Regions from separate parts of the Homo sapiens genome. Here region 1 is linked to region 2. Evidence: fine-mapped expression QTL. Tissue or cell type: tibial artery. Region 2 holds a variant in brackets; the other region holds the start of a gene. All regions are shown on one strand. Distances are from middle to middle.

Region 1 (8,000 bases), 42 kb before region 2:
CTCCTGCTCTGGTGGCCAAGGGGGCAGGGACACTCATGCGGCATCCCTGCTGCCGCCTAGGGCTGGAGACTGTCCTTAGTACCCTGAGCAGCACCCAGAATCCAAAGTCTGTCCCCGGAAAGTGCCCTCAGGGCCATGCGGCGTCTGACGTGGCACAGAAGTGGCCTGGATGGGGACACAGAACCAAACTGCACTCATTTCAGCCAAGAAGGCTCCTCTTAGCGGCATAAGTCTCCCTTTCTGTTGCCAGGAAAAGTGCCCTCCCATCAAGCAAGGCTTCCGCTAAGCAAGGCTGCACTGTGAGGTCCACACACACCCAGGCGATGGAGGGGTGCGGGCTCCGCTCAGCACCGCACTGAACTGAGCCCAGCAGCGCAGTAGGGACTGGCTTCTCCCTGGGAAAGGCTTCTTGAGAGGCTGAAGCTGCAGGAGAGGGTGATGAGTTGAGAAGCTCAGGGTGGGCCCTCCTGGGAGGACCGCCTGCCCTTTCTAACACTGCTGGCCCTCGGAGGCCCTCAGCCACTTGGCAGCTGCATCCCCCATACCCGGGACCTCCCCACCAAGTTCTCATTTCTCCAATGGCAGCCTTCAGAGCTGAGAGGCCGAGTCAAGAGGGTGCCATCTCCCAAGTTCCCATGATTCCTGGGGAGCGTCTGTGTAGCTGCCCACCTGGACCGAGGTGGTCCCCACACTGAGGCCAATTGGTTGGGGTCCGGGGTTGACCTGGGCAGGGGACACATCAAAACTGCTCGAGGCCAAGCGCGGTGGCTCACGCCTATAATCCCAGCACTTTGGGAGGCCAAGGCAGGTGGATCACCTGAGGTCAGAAGTTTGAGACCAGCCTGGCCAACTTGGGGAACCCTTGTCTCTACCAAAAATACAAAAATGGTTGGGCGTGGTGGCTCACACCTGTAATCCCAGCACCTTGGGAGGCCAAGGCAGGTGGATCACGAGGTCAGGAGTTCAAGACCAGCCTGGTCAAGATGGTGAAACTCCGTCTCTACTAAAAATACAAAAATTAGCCAGGCGTGGTGGCGCGTGCCTGTAATCCCAGCAGCTACTCACTCAGGAGGCTGAGGCAGGAGAATCTCTTGAACCCGGAAGGCAGAGGTTGCAGTGAGCCAAGATCGCGCCACTGAACTCCAGCCTGGGTGACAGAGTGAGACTGTCTCAGAACAGCAACAACAAAATGCCCGCTGCTGCTGGGTCCAGAAGAGCTTGAATAACTGCATGTTCTTTTTCTCAATTTTCATTTCCCAGAACTGGGCACCTCCGGGCTGTGAAAAGTTAGGGAAGTGTCTGACACCTCCAGAATCCATTCCCAAGAAGTGCCTCTGGTCCCACTAGCACCTGCGCAGACTCAGGCCAGGCCTAGAATCTCCGGTTGGCCCTGCAAGTGCCTGGAGGAAGGATGGCTCTGGCCTCGGTCCTCCCCCAACCCTGCCCAAGCCAGACAGACAGCACCTGCAGACGCAGGGGGACTGCACAATTCCACCTGCCCAGGACCTGACCCTGGCGTGTGCTTGGCCCTCCTCCTCGCCCACGGCGCCTCAGATTTCAGGACCCTCCTCCTCGCCCACGGCGCCTCAGACCTCAGGACCCTGCCGTCTCACGCCTTTGTGAACCCCAAATATCTGAGACCAGTCTCAGTTTATTTTGCCAAGGTTAAGGATGCACCTGTGACAGCCTCAGGAGGTCCTGACAACAGGTGCCTGAGGTGGCTGGGGATACAGTTTGCCTTTATACATCTTAGGGAGACACAAGATCAGTATGTGTATGGCGTACATTGGTTCAGTCAGCCTTCCACTGAATACACGATTGAGTCTGGCCCAGTGAATCCGCATTTTTATGTAAACAGTAAGGGAACGGGGCAATCATATAAGCGTTTGTCTCAGGGGAGCCCCAGAGGGATGACTTCCAGTTCCGTCTGTCCTTTGTCCACAAGGAATTTCCCTGGACGCTAATTATGAGGGAGGCGTGTAGCTTCTTATCATTGTAACTATGTTATTTAGAAATAAAACGGGAGGCAGGTTTGCCTAATTCCCAGCTTGATTTTTCTCTTGGCTGAGTGATTTTGGGGTCCGGAGATTTATTTTCCTTTCACACCTTCTCAGCAGCTGCCAAGAATCAGGTGCCCAGCTCCCGCTGCCTCCCGGCCGGCCTCCTCCAGAGGCCAGCGCCACATTGGTTGTTGAAGGGCAGGACTCGGGGCTCCTTGCTGTTCCCACGCCAGCCCAACAGCCCGGGTTGAAGGAAGCCACAGGGCCAATTCTGTGTTGAACCCTCCCCAGGCCCCTCCTCCAGTACCCCCCCACCCCACGCCTTCCCAGGCCCCCCTCGGGCCATCTGGGAGACAGAATCAGGAACAAGGAAGGGGAAGGCGGAGGCCTCCTGGGCTGGACGTGGACGGCTGAAGTGTAGCTCACACACTTGGACCGGTGGGGCCGGCTCATGTGGCAGCTTCCCCGGGGACGTGAGGATGTCAGGGTCCTCCATTTCCACCTTCCCTAGGGGTCTGGAGCCCAGGCCCCAGGCCTTGCCAGCCCTGACCACCGCACACTGCGAGGCAGCCGCCCCTACCACGCCCCTTGGCATCAGACGATGGGTCCCCCACCCGCCCTGGAACCGGGGCCCCAGCAGCCGCATGCAGCCTCCGGCCTCCCCCTCCGAAGGCTCCTGGGGGCTGCCTTCCACTGAGTGGGTTTTCCCTTCTGCAGTAACTGCCAGGCCAAAGCTGAATTGTAAAAGTTGCGAAATGATGGGCCGGGCGCGGTGGCTCACGCCTGTAATCCCGGCACTTTGGGAGGCCGAAGCGGGCAGATCACGGGGTCAGGAGATCGAGACCATCCTGGCTAACACAGTGAAACTGCGTCTCTACTAAAAATACAAAAAATTAGCAGGGCGTGGTGGCGGGCTCCTGTAGTCCCAGCTACTCGGGAGGCTGAGGCGGGAGAATGGCCGGAACCCAGGAGGTGGAGCTTGCAGTGAGCCCAGATGGCGCCACTGTGCTCCATCCTGGGCGACAGAGCGAGAGTCCTTCTCAAAAAAAAGTTGCGAAATGAAGAAAAGTCTTGGAATAGAGCACAAGGCATTTTAGCTCTGGGGATTTTCTTGAAAGGAAATTGTGTTTGGGGGGAGTTATGCCTCACACAACCCCCTGGGTACCAGTCCTCGGGCGGCCAGGGGGTTCACAGCTCCCCACCCCAAGGCTAAGGGGTCACCTGGCCTCTGCAGGCGGACAGAAGGGCTTCTGCCCTCGCGGATGCGCGCCCTGGCCTGGCCACACCTTCCGGCCTCCCTCCCCCGGGTCCGGGCGGGGAAGAGCCGCCTCAACGGCAGGGCCCATCCGCGAGAGGCCAGCGCCCCCGGCCGGTCCAGCCCAGGCCCGCCGCCTCCGCCCTGGGCTGCTCCCTCCGGGCCCTGCACCGCCCTCCTGCTACTTGGACCGCTTCCTCACGCCCTTCTCCACCCCGCGCGCCAGCCTCCCGCGCGCAGCGTGGGGATCTCGGCCAATAAAGGAGAAAGGGCGCGGCCCGTACGCGCGCCAGGTGCGTGGGCGAGACCAGCTCACGCCCCTCCTCCAGCCGCCAAGGCCCCGGCCCACAGCTGCCTGGCTGCAGTCAGAAGCGTAGCCCGAGACAAGGAAGGGCGCCTTGACTCGCACTTTTGTCCGGTTCGAACGTTCTGCTCAGTGGTGCGTGGAATGCGAGCGCGTCTTAAAATCGATGGCGCCTAGGAGTCCATGAAATACGGTACAGGCTTCCGGCGACGGATGCCCCGCCCCTCACCCACGCTCCGCCCTCCGGGGATGCCCCACCCCTCGTGGCGGTCCCGCCCGTCCCCGCGCAGGCGCGCTCGGGCTGCCGCTGGCTCTTCGCACGCGGCCATGGCCGACTCCGAGCTGCAGCTGGTTGAGCAGCGGATCCGCAGCTTCCCCGACTTCCCCACCCCAGGCGTGGTATTCAGGTGCACGCACAGGCCGCCCTCGTGGCGCCCCGACCTGCGGGCCTACGGATGGGAGCGCGTGGCCCGCGACCTCCGGGCGGGCGGGGCGGGAACCCTCGTCTTTCGCCCCCGGGGCCCTGCCCTCCTTCGGCCCCGGCGTCACCAGGCCTGTCCTTGGGTCCAGGGACATCTCGCCCGTCCTGAAGGACCCCGCCTCCTTCCGCGCCGCCATCGGCCTCCTGGCGCGACACCTGAAGGCGACCCACGGGGGCCGCATCGACTACATCGCAGGCGAGTGCCCAGTGGCCGCATCTAGGGCGCTTCCGCCTCTGCGCGCGCCGAGGGCAGCACGTGGGCTCTGCGCGTCTGCTTGGGGGAGGGCCTTTGGGGTGCTTCAGGGGGCGCCGGGACGGGCGCCGTGCTTGGGTCGCCCGGGAAGGGTTGTGAGATTGAGCCCCCGAGGCCGCCGCGCTGTGCAGGCGTCCTTCCCGCAGGTTCCGGGTCCCCAGCCCAGGACAGGCGTGACCGAGTTGCCGGGTCAGTTGGTCTCCCTGGAGTGCCCAAGCTGAATCCACAGGGCCCAGCTGCCTTGCTTCTTGTTCCTTCTGCGAGCTGGTATTGAGCGCCTGCCACGAGCCAGGCCTTCCCTGGTGAAGATCACGGAATGCCCACCCAGGGAAGGGAGGCCTGGAGGCCTCCGGGAGAGCCCAAGAGGTGGCCCAGGGAGAACAGAGTGTTCCTGGCCGTCTTGCCTCTCCTAGGGTGTGACAGCCCACTCCCTGGACACTGCCCTGAGGAAAGCGCCAGCTCTTGCTGGAGCCACAACACTGCCAGAGCTCCCTTCTCACCTCCTGCAGGAAGCCCTCCCTGACCTCCTGCCAGGCCGGGGCAGGGTTTCCCTGAGCGTCCCCCAACCATCACAGCTCAGGCCACCTCGAGAGACTCCCTTTTTAGACAGAAGCCCTGGTGCAGAGCTGCCTTTGAGAGTAAGCTGAGGCCTGTCAGGTTTCTACCAGCCCAGTTACAGATGGGCTGCTCAGCTCAGAGAGAGGGGTGGTGACTCCCCTAGGAACACACAGCTAAGAAGTGGTCCCTTAAAAGACAGACCCAGGTCTGCACTCTGACCTGGAAGCAGCTCCGGGTAGGTGATGGGTAACATTCCTTAAATGGTGCATGTCACTGGCCTTTCAGCTGGGAGCCAACCAGGTACCCCTTGCCACCGGCCAACCCTGGCCCCTGGGGATTCCCATGCTGCCGAGTCACTCCTGTCACTTACCCTGACAGGCCTAGACTCCCGAGGCTTCCTCTTTGGCCCCTCCCTGGCCCAGGAGCTTGGACTGGGCTGCGTGCTCATCCGAAAGCGGGGGAAGCTGCCAGGCCCCACTCTGTGGGCCTCCTATTCCCTGGAGTACGGGAAGGTAAGAGGGCTGGGGTGGCCAGAGGAAGGGCAGGGCCAGGCCACCGTGGCCACTCTCCCCCAGTTCTAAAAGGCCTTCCCAGGCGTGTCAAGTGGAGCTGCTGTGGTTACAGTGGCCTTGGGAGCTCAGAGAGGTTGAGACATAGGCTGGGCTCACACAGCCAGGTAACAGCAAGGTGGGGTTGGAGTCAGGGTCTAGGGTGGCAGCTGCCAAGCTGTGCAACAAAGCTGTTTTCTGCGGGAGGCTGAGGACCACACACCACTTCCCACTCCAGGCTGAGCTGGAGATTCAGAAAGACGCCCTGGAGCCAGGACAGAGGGTGGTCGTCGTGGATGATCTGCTGGCCACTGGTGGTAAGGGTCTCCCCGCAGCCAACTGCTGTGGCTCCAAGGGCCTGGTGGGAGTGGGACAGGACCTCGCTGTGTGACATGGGATGCAGCTTACTGTTGTCCAGAGGGTGCCTGGTGGCCAGGCCGACACCTTCCTCTCCCCATGCCTTCCCCTCCCCAACCCAGGGGCTGGCCTGGAGCACCTGCTCTCTGCAGCCCAGGCCAACTGGGGACCTCACCCTCCCATCCCCAGGAACCATGAACGCTGCCTGTGAGCTGCTGGGCCGCCTGCAGGCTGAGGTCCTGGAGTGCGTGAGCCTGGTGGAGCTGACCTCGCTTAAGGGCAGGGAGAAGCTGGCACCTGTACCCTTCTTCTCTCTCCTGCAGTATGAGTGACCACAGGGCCTCCCAGCCCAACATCTCCAGCTGGATCCCAGGGAAATATCAGCCTTGGGCAACTGCAGTGACCAGGGGCACCGGCTGCCCACAGGGAACACATTCCTTTGCTGGGGTTCAGCGCCTCTCCTGGGGCTGGAAGTGCCAAAGCCTGGGGCAAAGCTGTGTTTCAGCCACACTGAACCCAATTACACACAGCGGGAGAACGCAGTAAACAGCTTTCCCACAAGAGCCGTCTCCTGTCCTCCTGTTCCCCAGGGCAGGGAGCCCCAGGACAACACCAGACTTCAGCTGTACTGTGGGCATGTGCTGCTTGGCGTGATGCCCAGCAGAACCTGTCCTGGTTCTCACCTCAGGAGCTAGAACCCTCCAGGCACTGCAGGAAGAGGCCATGTGGGCCCATCTTCTAGGGGAGCAAGCGAGGGCTCTTCTGCAGATCTAGTGGCTGTAAGCATGACTTTATTAGAGTTTAGGAGGTCAGAAATACTGAAGTCAAGGTGTGGGCAGAGGCCAGTCCCTTCTGGAGGCTCCAGGGATGTCCTACTTGTCCTGCCCAGCTTCTCCAGGCTGCCTGTGTCGGGGCAGGGCCGCGTCTTCAAAGCTGGCTGGCTCTGGCCCTGTCATGAAGGCCCTGTGATGACATGGGGCGTAGCTGGACAATTCAGGATCACCTCTCCAGTCTTGAAATTTTTTTTTTTGAGACGGAGTCTCGCTCTGTCACCCAGGCTGGAGTGCGTGCAGTGGTGCGATCTTCGCTCACTGCAAGCTGTGCCTCCTGGGTTCACACCATTCTCCTGCCTCAGCCTCCCTAGTAGCTGGGACGACAGGTGCCCACCACCACACCCGGCTAATTTTTTGTATTTTTAGTAGAGATGGGGTTTCACCATGTTCGCCAGGATGGTCTCGATCTCTTGACCTCGTGATCTGCCCACCTTGGCCTCCCAAAGTGCTGGGGTTACAGGCGTGAGCCACCACACCCACCCCAGTCTTTCTTAATGACAAAAGTCACCCTTTGCTGTGGGAGGTCCCATATTCAGAGGTTCCAAGATTAGAGGGGATGGCCTGCCACCCACACTACCCAACCCCATATTGCCACAGAGCCCCCTTCACCCCCAGCCACACTCCCGATGGCCCCCCAGGGGGTGCTGGATCTGGCTTCCCTTCCCCACCAGCAGCAAGGACAGAGGTGCCCACAGAAACCGGTTTAATGTGAATCCACCAGGTGAGCCCCATGAAGGGGCCCACCGCCCGCAGCCAGAGACCCTCGGGCTGTGCAGCCTGCAGCCCACATCTGCCTCTGGCCCTCAGGGGCGCTGGGGAAAGGAAGGCCAAAGTGTATCATGTTCATAAAAGAAAATGCTGGTGGGCCCAGGCCAGCGAGCTTCTGAAGCCCACGTCTGTCCACAGTGGCCCCCAGGCTCACAGCCCCTCCTCAGCACGTGTCTGGTGGGCCAGGCGTGCAGTGATGTGGGCGAGGTCCGCGGCCTTGTCCAGCTTGACGTAGGTGTCGGTGCGGATGCGGTGGAGGCTGAGCCAGTCCGGCAGCAGCTCGGAGAGGAGCAGCAGGTGCTTCTCCATTTCCCCTGGGGGAGGAGAGGAGGACACTGAGGCTGGTGCTGGGCCCCAGCCCTGCACGGGCAGCACTTGAAACCAGCCTGACCACCCAACCTCTGTGCCTGCCTGGTCGCCCTCAGGGCCCCATCACCAGGACTTAGGGCAGAGGTGGTTCTGATCAGAGGCCCAGGTCTGGGTGGTGTGAACAGTGACCGGAGAGAGCCAGGCCTACAGTTGAGGCCCTGTGAGGAGGCACCGAGCATGGAGGCCGCCAGCCCATGAAAGCCCTGAGGCAGGAGGTGCCCTGTAGCGTCAGGACCCCTATGTGCTCAGGGCCTGGTCACCAGAGGCCTGGGAG
Region 2 (8,000 bases):
GGCCTGGAGGGGCCCCAATCTCTGAAGGTCAGCAGTGGCGGGGAGGAGGCTTGCGGTGCTGAAGGGACTCGGGGGACCTGCAGGGAGGTGTTGGTGGTCAGGGATGGTGGCACCTGAGGGGACTTTTGGCAGGGCCAGAAGTGCCCAGAGCAAGCTCCGGTGGGGCCCTGCACTGGAGGGCTGGGGTCGAGTGACCCTCTTCCTAAGACCACCCAGGAGGACACTGGGTGCAGGGTGGCCGGAGCCCTCACCCCCAGTAGGCAGCTGCTGTCCACTCCGCCGACCTGCCTGTCACCCAGTAGGCAGCTGCTGTCCACTCCCCCGACCTGCCTGTCACCCAGTAGGCAGCTGCTGTCCACTCCCCCGACCTGCCTGTCACCCAATAGGCAGCTGCTGTCCAGTCCCCCGACCTGCCTGTCAGCCTTTTCCCTGTCAGGCCCTGTTCCTAGGAGCCTGGAGACCTCAGGGGTGGCCTTGAGCCCCCAGGGTTTTTTTGAGGGGAAGCGCCAGCTGCTGTCTTCACCCTTCCCCTAGTGAGGCCAGGCTGTGCAGGGCCACGTGGAGGCAGTCTGTGCTGCGCCCATCGGTCGCCTGGCTTCCTGCCGACCCTCGGCCCCCAGCCACCTCTGGTCTCGGGCAAGGCCCCTCCCCCTGCCCACCTCCTCCCTGGCCCCCACGCCAGGTGGGCAGACCTCCTCTGCGGTTTTTATTCAGGGGGTCCCTCGTTGGCTGCCCACTCTTGGAGGGCTGTCCTGACTCAGGCCTCCCCTCTACTCAGATCCCCTGAGCGAGGGCCTGGGCGTGACGCCGGGAGTTACTGGGGGGCCAGAGGGGGAGGCTCAGCCTGAATCAATGAGACCCAGGAGGAAGGAGGCACGTGGACCTGAGGGCTGGCTGGAGCCGCTGGTGACAGATGGAGGAGTAATTGCTGCTTCCAGAGCACAGCGAGCTCGAGCTCCCTGGAGTGCCAGAAGCTTCTGGGTGGACAGACAGGCCGCCTCACATTCCAGAGGCTGACACAGTCTTCCAGGCACCCCTGGGGCCAGCTGGAAGCCATGTGCCTCCACTCACGTGTCCCGTGGGTGTTTGGAGGGGAGGCTGGCCCTGCCATGGCCCACCCCAGCCTGCGGCCTCAGGAGCTTGCACATTTGCAAGGGGGTGACATGAAGACTGAGCCAGGGCTGCGGCGGGCATCCCCCTCAGAGAACAGGGAGGAGGGGGCACAGGCCTTTTTTTTTTTTTTTTTGACAGAGTCTCACTCTTTGGCCAGGCTGGAATGCAGTGGCACGATCTCAGCTCACTGCCACCTTCGCCTCCCAGGTTCAAGCGATTCTCCTGCCTCAGCCTCCCCAGTAGCTGAGATTACAGGCACCCACCATCACGCCCGGCTCATTTTTGTATTTTTAGTAGAGACGGGGTTTTACCATGTTGTCCAGGATGGTCTTGATCTGTTGACCTCGTGATCTGCTTGCCTCGGCCTCCCAAAGTGCTGGGATTACAGGCGTGAGCCACTGTGCCCTGCCAGGCACGGGCCTTTTTATGAGGGAGGAAGCCGTGCCCTCTGCCACCTGCCTGTGGGCTGGGGCCTGCAGGCTCCCAGGGCCCTCAGCTCCAGCGTGGCTGTTGGTTATTGGCACCTGGGCCTCATGTCCACATGGAAAGTATATTCCGAGCTGGTGGCTAAGCCACAAGAGCCTGCTTACCTGTCCCAACCCCCGGCTCACTTGCTGCCATGATACGTCTGGGATTCTGGGCCCTCCTTCTGAGCTTGGACACAGACTTGGGACTTCAGCGCTGGACACAGGTGCTGGATCTGGGGTCTCAATGGCACCAGGGATGGTCATTCTGACAGCCATGCCCAGAGTCTCAGGAGGGCCTGGGGCCGCAGGTGGACAGGCATCCTGACCAGAGTCTCAGGAGGGCCTGGGGCCGCGGGTGGACAGGCATAGAGTCTCAGGTGGGCCTGGGGCCGCGGGTGGACGGGCATAGAGTCTCAGGAGGGCCTGGGGCCGCGGGTGGATGGGCATAGAGTCTCAGGAGGGCCTGGGGCCGCGGGTGGACGGGCATAGAGTCTCAGGTGGGCCTGGGGCCGCGGGTGGACGGGCATAGAGTCTCAGGAGGGCCTGGGGCCGCGGGTGGACGGGCATAGAGTCTCAGGAGGGCCTGGGGCCGCGGGTGGACGGGCATAGAGTCTCAGGAGGGCCTGGGGCCGCGGGTGGACGGGCATAGAGTCTCAGGAGGGCCTGGGGCCGCGGGTGGACGGGCATAGAGTCTCAGGAGGGCCTGGGGCCGCGGGTGGACGGGCATCTGGACGTCGGCTCCACTAGTGTCACCTCTGCAACCTTGTCCCACCCAGCACCTCCCTATGGCCCTGCTCTGACTGTGGGCTGAGGGGGACCCCCATGGCTAGCTTGGGACCTCCGCTGGACACTGTCATAGGGCACTTGTCGAGTGGCCCTGCTGAGGTTCAGGCTTGGGCGTGTGTGGCCCCTGAGCCCAGCAGCTGCGTGAGCCGTGGGGAGCCGAGCCCCCAGTCAAGAAAGCTGTGTGCTCCTTACCCTGCCTGCTGGGCTTGGGGCCTGCAGGGCAAGGGAGGCGGTGGGATGGGAGCCCCGCCTGGCCTGGTTTCTTGTTGTCGCCGCACTCCTAGCTGTATGTAGTCAGATGAGGCTCCCAGTCCTGGCTCTGCTGCTGAGCACCATTGGGCCGGTGGTTGGGTGAATCTCTCAGCCTCTCTGAGCCTCCAGCACTTCGTCCTTAAGAGTGGAACTGGTCTGGACCTCCCAAGGGGGGGTCACTGGGTGCAGAGTTCCTGCAAGGCTGGGCCCGGTGCCAGTAGCGGTCGCTCTGTGGGGCCTTTCGCACGGTTGATTTTTATCTCCCTGTGAGATTAGCGCCTGCCCTGCTCTGCCTCACGGCTCTGGCTCTCCGGGACTGAGACCACCTGCTAAGTGACAGGGGCGGAAGGACCTTGCAACACAGAGCAAGACGTGATAGGGTGGAGCTGCTCCGCCCAGGCCCCGCCTGCAGATGAGAGGGCCCAGAGCCTCTTAATCCCCTGCGCTCAGGGCATGTGACGGCAGGGAGTCTCTCCAGTGCCGCCCACCGGATTCCTATAGTTAGAGCTCCTCGCCCAAGCCCCCAGGGCACCTCACTGGCCTCCCAGGTGAGGACATGAGGCCCAGCGACTCTGGTGGTGGCTGGTGTCACCTATGGCAGGGCCGCGCGGGGCCCAGTGGAGGACGCCTGGCCCGGACCTGACTGCTCCGTGGGAACCGTGGGGCGTGCTCAGGGTGACTTGGTGCGGCTGGGCTGCCAGCCGGCCTGGCTGAGTCACTGGCAGTGAAGGCACCAGGTGGTGGACGTGCTCGGCAGCTGGCGGGAGAGTACCCCCACCCAGGACCGTGTTCAGGCTGAGGGGGAAGGGAGCGGCCCAGGCAGGCACCGCCCATGGCGGGGCCCCCGCACTAACGGCCACCTCTCCCGATGGACTGCAGTTCTGGAGCCGCCCCTGAGGAGAACGCCCTGCTCAGTGTCCTGGCAGACTCTGGACTCTTCACCGTGCCATCCTCGCTACAGCCTGGCCAGGCAGCCGCTCCCGTCCCCCCACCCCACAGACAGGAACTGCAGACTCCTAAAGGTCGAGCCAGCTCCCAAGTCCATAGCCAGAAAGTGATGCAGGCGGGGCCCGGCTGGGGGGCAGGTGTGACCGGGTCATGGGGGAGCGGGCTGTGCACAGGCATCAGGCTGAGAGGTCTCGGGGATACGTCCTGGGAGCCGCCTGCCAGGCGTCCTGTGGGGCTGCCTGCAGGCCTCCTCTGGCTTTGGCAGGTTCTGTCCCGACAGACCGAGGCTTGGGAAGACCGGATTGTGCACTCTCTGCCTGGAGAGAGGGTGGGGAGGGGCTGGGGCGTGTGGGCAGGGAGAACACCCTGGGAGGCATCAGTCCTCTTCCCTGGGGACGGGCCATGCGTCAACAGTCCCTCACTTCCTCTCTCAGGGGCAGAGGCGTGGGGGTCCCGAGCCTCCAGGTTGGAGTAGGTTAGGAGGGCCTCAGAGCCCCCTGCTGCCCCGCCATGTGGCATTGGAAGGGGTGTGACCCCCTAGGGGATCTGTTAACCACACTCCGCCCCATGCCGGCCTCTCTGTTCCCTCTAACCTGCGCAGGAGCAGGGCCAGCTCTGAGCTAGCAGAGGTGACATGAGGCTCGTCCTGGCCCCGCCCACCCTGGCCCCTCCCTGTTTCCCACCACGCTCCGCCCACCAGAGCTACA[T/G]GTTGTGTTTGAGCCTCAGCCCCAGACCTGGCTCAGGTCCTCAGGAGGAAGCAGTGACAGCCAGGCCCGGGGTCCTCTCCCTGCTCTGCTCCCTGCGTGCTGACTGGAGGCTGCAGGTCCCCAGGCTTGGCCCTGACCCTCAGGAATGGAGCCGGCCGATGTGAGGTGGGGGCTCCGGTCATGTGCAGTGGTAGGAGAGGAGGCGGGACCGGTCCCACAGCTCCATTGCTGCCGAGGCGTTCCGCAGGTCTGTCTTCATATTGGTAAGGAAAATGCGAGGATGGTGTAGCCTGGGCATCCCAGTCCCCAAGTCCGAAATCTAAATCCAAGCGGAAAATTCCAGGCCTGACTTCATACGCCAGGTCACAGTCAGAAGCCAGAATTATTGAAAGTATGCTCTGGGCGTGGTGGCCTCACACCTGTAATCCCAGCACTTTGGGAGGCCATGGTGGGAGGATCACTTGAGGCCAGGAGTTTGAGAGCAGCCTGGGTAACATAGTGAGACCCCCGTCATTATTTACACAAAATTATGTGACTGCCTTTAGGGTATGTGTACGAGGTATATATTGAAATGTGAGTAGAATTTTGTGTTGAGTCCCATCCCCAAGATACCTCATTATGCGTGTGCAAATATTCCAAAATCCAGAAAATCCTAAACTGGAAATACTTCTGGCCCCTTTGGATGAGGGGCCCCCACTCTGCATAGCAAGTGTGGGCGCGGGTGCTGCTGTGTCCTAGCGTACTTCAGTGTGTGGCCTTTGCAGTGAATAGGGCTGGTGTCCTCACTGTACAGATGAGGAAACTGAGGCCCAGCTTGCTTTGCCAAGGTGCATCCGGCCCCGGCCATGGCTATTCTGGCTCCAGATCCCATGGTCTGCAGCCACAATACTGCTGTGCCCCGGACTGGGCCCTGCAGCTCGCGGTGTCGCTGGCCTGCCCATTGTGGGCACCGCCCCCACCCCAGACTGGCCGAGGCCTAGAAGGGAGCAGGGCCTGGCTGAGGCTGCAGGGGTGGGGACGGTCAGCCAGCCCCTCACTGCCAGGAAGGGCGCATCCATCCTGGCCTCTCCCCAGGGAGAAGGGAGGAGCGGCTGAGAGGGAAGCGCTCTTGCCCTGTGGACGAGCTCCTGCCCCACGGACTAGGGAGCCCCCGCCCACAACCTGCTTGTCAGGGCCACCCGGGACCCCCGGGAGTTCGGCTGCTCGCTCTGCTGTTAGGAATTGGATTAGTTTTCCATAAAAACAGGATGTGGTGGGTGAGAGGGCAGTGTGTCCGTCTTTCTCACTCCCCTTTTTCCAGGAACTGAGCACGCGCATAGGTTTTAGCCAGGGCCGTCCAGTCCCCTCCCCACCCCCCACAGGGAACAATCCACTCTCTGCTCTTAAGTGGCCACTTAATCAGCTTCTCCTCCTGGCCCGGGGAGCTTCTTGGAGCCGGCCTGCCGTGGTGGGAACAGCTATGGGGACACCCTGCCATAAGGTCCAGCAGCTAAGCTGGGATGTGGGGGGAGGGGCTGCGAGGCCCAGGCAGTGTGCCAGGCCGCACAAGAGGAGCCCAGCTCTTGCCCCACCAGCTGGCAGCCCTGGACCGAGGTTGGGCCCGTGAGGTTGGCTGGGCCCTGGGCCCTGGGCCCCCCTCCCCAGGACACGACTGTGGTGGCACATGGCTTTGGGGGCTCGTGGGTCCCACTTTGCAGACCTCTGCTTTAAGGGGTCTGGTCCACGGGGTCCCCTCTGGAGGGCCTGGGGGAAATCTCAGGGACCTGGGGTCTGGACCCGGGGGAGGGAGCGGGAGAAGCATGTGCGTGAGTCTCGTGCTGTCAGGGAGCCCGGGAAGTCTGCGAGGGCTTGGGGGTTGTGTCAGGGAGTGTGGGTTTTGCCCTTCAGTGGTGGAAGCTGGCTTGAGTCCCCTCGATCCCTCAAGGCTGTAGTCCTGACTCGGGGCTGTAGGGCAGGGCAGGGTGGGGTCACCCTGAGGCAGAAGGCTCAGCGGAGATGTTCTGGCTTGGCTCTGCCCCTCCCTGGCTGGGTGGCCTCACCCTGTGACCTTTGGGGACCCTGGTTCCTCTGAGCCAGGGGACAGCAGTGACTCCGCCTTCCTAGGTGGCTGAGGATGACATGGGCTCCCCCTGCAAATGTGGGTTCTGGCTCAGTGGCCAAGTGTATGATGGTATGTGGCTCTTGGGGTCCTGAGAGAGATGGGAGAGGAGCAGGGGTTTGTAGGGAAGCTGGCGGCTTCCACCCCAGCCAGTCACCTGCAGTGGGGGAGTTCCAAAGCTGACTGAAGCTTCGACCTTGTGGCTGGTCCCCTTCCTTCCTGCCTCAGTCATTCTGGTCTCTGGGGGATCAGGGCTGGGGGGCTCTGGGCTGTGGGGGCCTGTTTTTGTGACTTAAAGCTCTCCCAGCACAGCCCCCTGACCTCCTTCCTCATGGGCAGGACCTGGCCCAGGGGTCTCAGCACAGCCACAGGCCAGGGATGCCCTTGCAGATGGCCCTGGATGGAATTCCAGAACTCAGAAATGTCTCCTTCCCGTAAGGATGTCCCGAGACTCATGAGACCGTTTCCTTCTGGGAAGGGGGAGGAATGGGGAGATGAGTGAAGAGCGCACTGCAGCTCAATCCGGGAAGAAGCTAATCAATCAATCAGGGAAGCCAATCGATCGGAGAAGCTGATGGGAAAGCTGTGCTTGGTAGAATAGGCTCGTGCGGGCAGAGCAGTCGCGGCACTCACAGGCTGACTGTGAGGACCTTGGGTGTTACTTTGTGCTTCTCTGCATTTTAAAAACTTTTGAAAGTGGAGAAGAGGAAAGTGAATGTTCTCTGAGATTTCATGGAAAGGGGAAACTGAGGCCCACTCTAGCCAGTTTGGGCCCAGGGTTCCAACCTGGGGTGGCCCCGGCCCTCGTGGCCTGAGGTGATCGTCCCTGTGGCTCTGAGAGCAGCTGGGGCCGGGTCCCCGTTCTGGGGCTGGTGATCCTGGGGAAGAGCCAGGCAGTGCCCTGCCCACCTAGTGGTTATGAGCCCAGAATGTTGATTTTTTTCCCTTGGTTGCTTCATGACTTTGTTGAATTTCCAGAGTATGTGTGGGGGCCCCCGGCGTCCCACTCGCCCCAGCCCTGTGGCAGCAGAGCTGGCTGTCAAGCTCAGTCAGCTGGGCCCAGGGCCCCGGAGGTAGGTGGGTGTGTGCCTGAGCTTCCCCTTTGGGCCCTGCCAGGTGCTGGGAGGGACCACACAGGCGGCAGGAACTCGGGGTCCCCAGGCCTCGGCCACACCAGCCTGGTGCTTGTTATATATTGATATGTCTCTCTACCTGTGAAATGGGTATTTATTTTAAGGAGCTGACGCACGCGATTGTGGGGCTGTCACGTCTGAAGTTCGCAGGGCGCGCTGGCTGTCAAGAGCCGCTGTTGCAGTCTCGAGTCCAGGCTGTGCGCTCAGGCCGGGCTTCTCTGTGGCGGTCCTGGGAATTCCTCCTCCGGGCCCTTAGGCGACACTCCCCTGCCTTCAGCTGATTGGATGAGGCCCTCATGCCGTCTGCTGATTTAAATCAATCTCATTTTAAAAACACCTGCACACCAAATTGCGATTGGCGTTTGACTAAACTGGGCAGCGTGGCCCAGCAGCGCTGACACATGAATCAACCCTCACACCCCACCCGCAGGCGTGACCACGGCACCCACGCTGCCGACTGAGAACACAGCCGTGCGCTGACTCGCATGTGATGTCT

What was found. PIP is the estimated chance that this variant, and not a neighbour inherited with it, causes the effect.
Region 1: it holds the start of APRT, and the variant in region 2 is fine-mapped to the expression of APRT in tibial artery (GTEx, PIP above 0.99). The same link has a PIP of 0.9 or more in gastroesophageal junction and whole blood.

Annotation. Positions count from the first base shown.
Region 1 is chr16:88,807,786-88,815,785 of GRCh38, reverse strand. It overlaps APRT (adenine phosphoribosyltransferase), which reads left to right and starts at 3,858. Exons shown (of 5, transcript NM_000485.3): 1 at 3,858-3,966; 2 at 4,130-4,236; 3 at 5,230-5,363; 4 at 5,638-5,716; 5 at 5,946-6,447. The coding sequence starts at 3,887. The coding sequence ends at 6,088. CDT1 (chromatin licensing and DNA replication factor 1) reads right to left here. Exons shown (of 10, transcript NM_030928.4): 10 at 6,528-7,671. The coding sequence ends at 7,508. It overlaps GALNS (galactosamine (N-acetyl)-6-sulfatase), which reads left to right. Exons shown (of 14, transcript NM_000512.5): 14 at 1,261-2,052. The coding sequence ends at 1,347. RefSeq lists enhancers at 2,115-2,798, 2,799-3,483, 4,989-5,524 and silencers at 3,196-3,455, 3,706-4,105.
Region 2 is chr16:88,766,022-88,774,021 of GRCh38, reverse strand. All of the region lies in intron 1 of PIEZO1 (piezo type mechanosensitive ion channel component 1 (Er blood group)), which reads left to right. Among named protein-coding and RNA genes, the nearest start is that of PIEZO1, 15 kb to the left of the region's middle. RefSeq lists enhancers at 2,884-3,467, 3,468-4,051, 4,636-5,219, 5,220-5,803, 5,804-6,389. The variant T/G (reference allele first, on the strand shown) is at 4,274.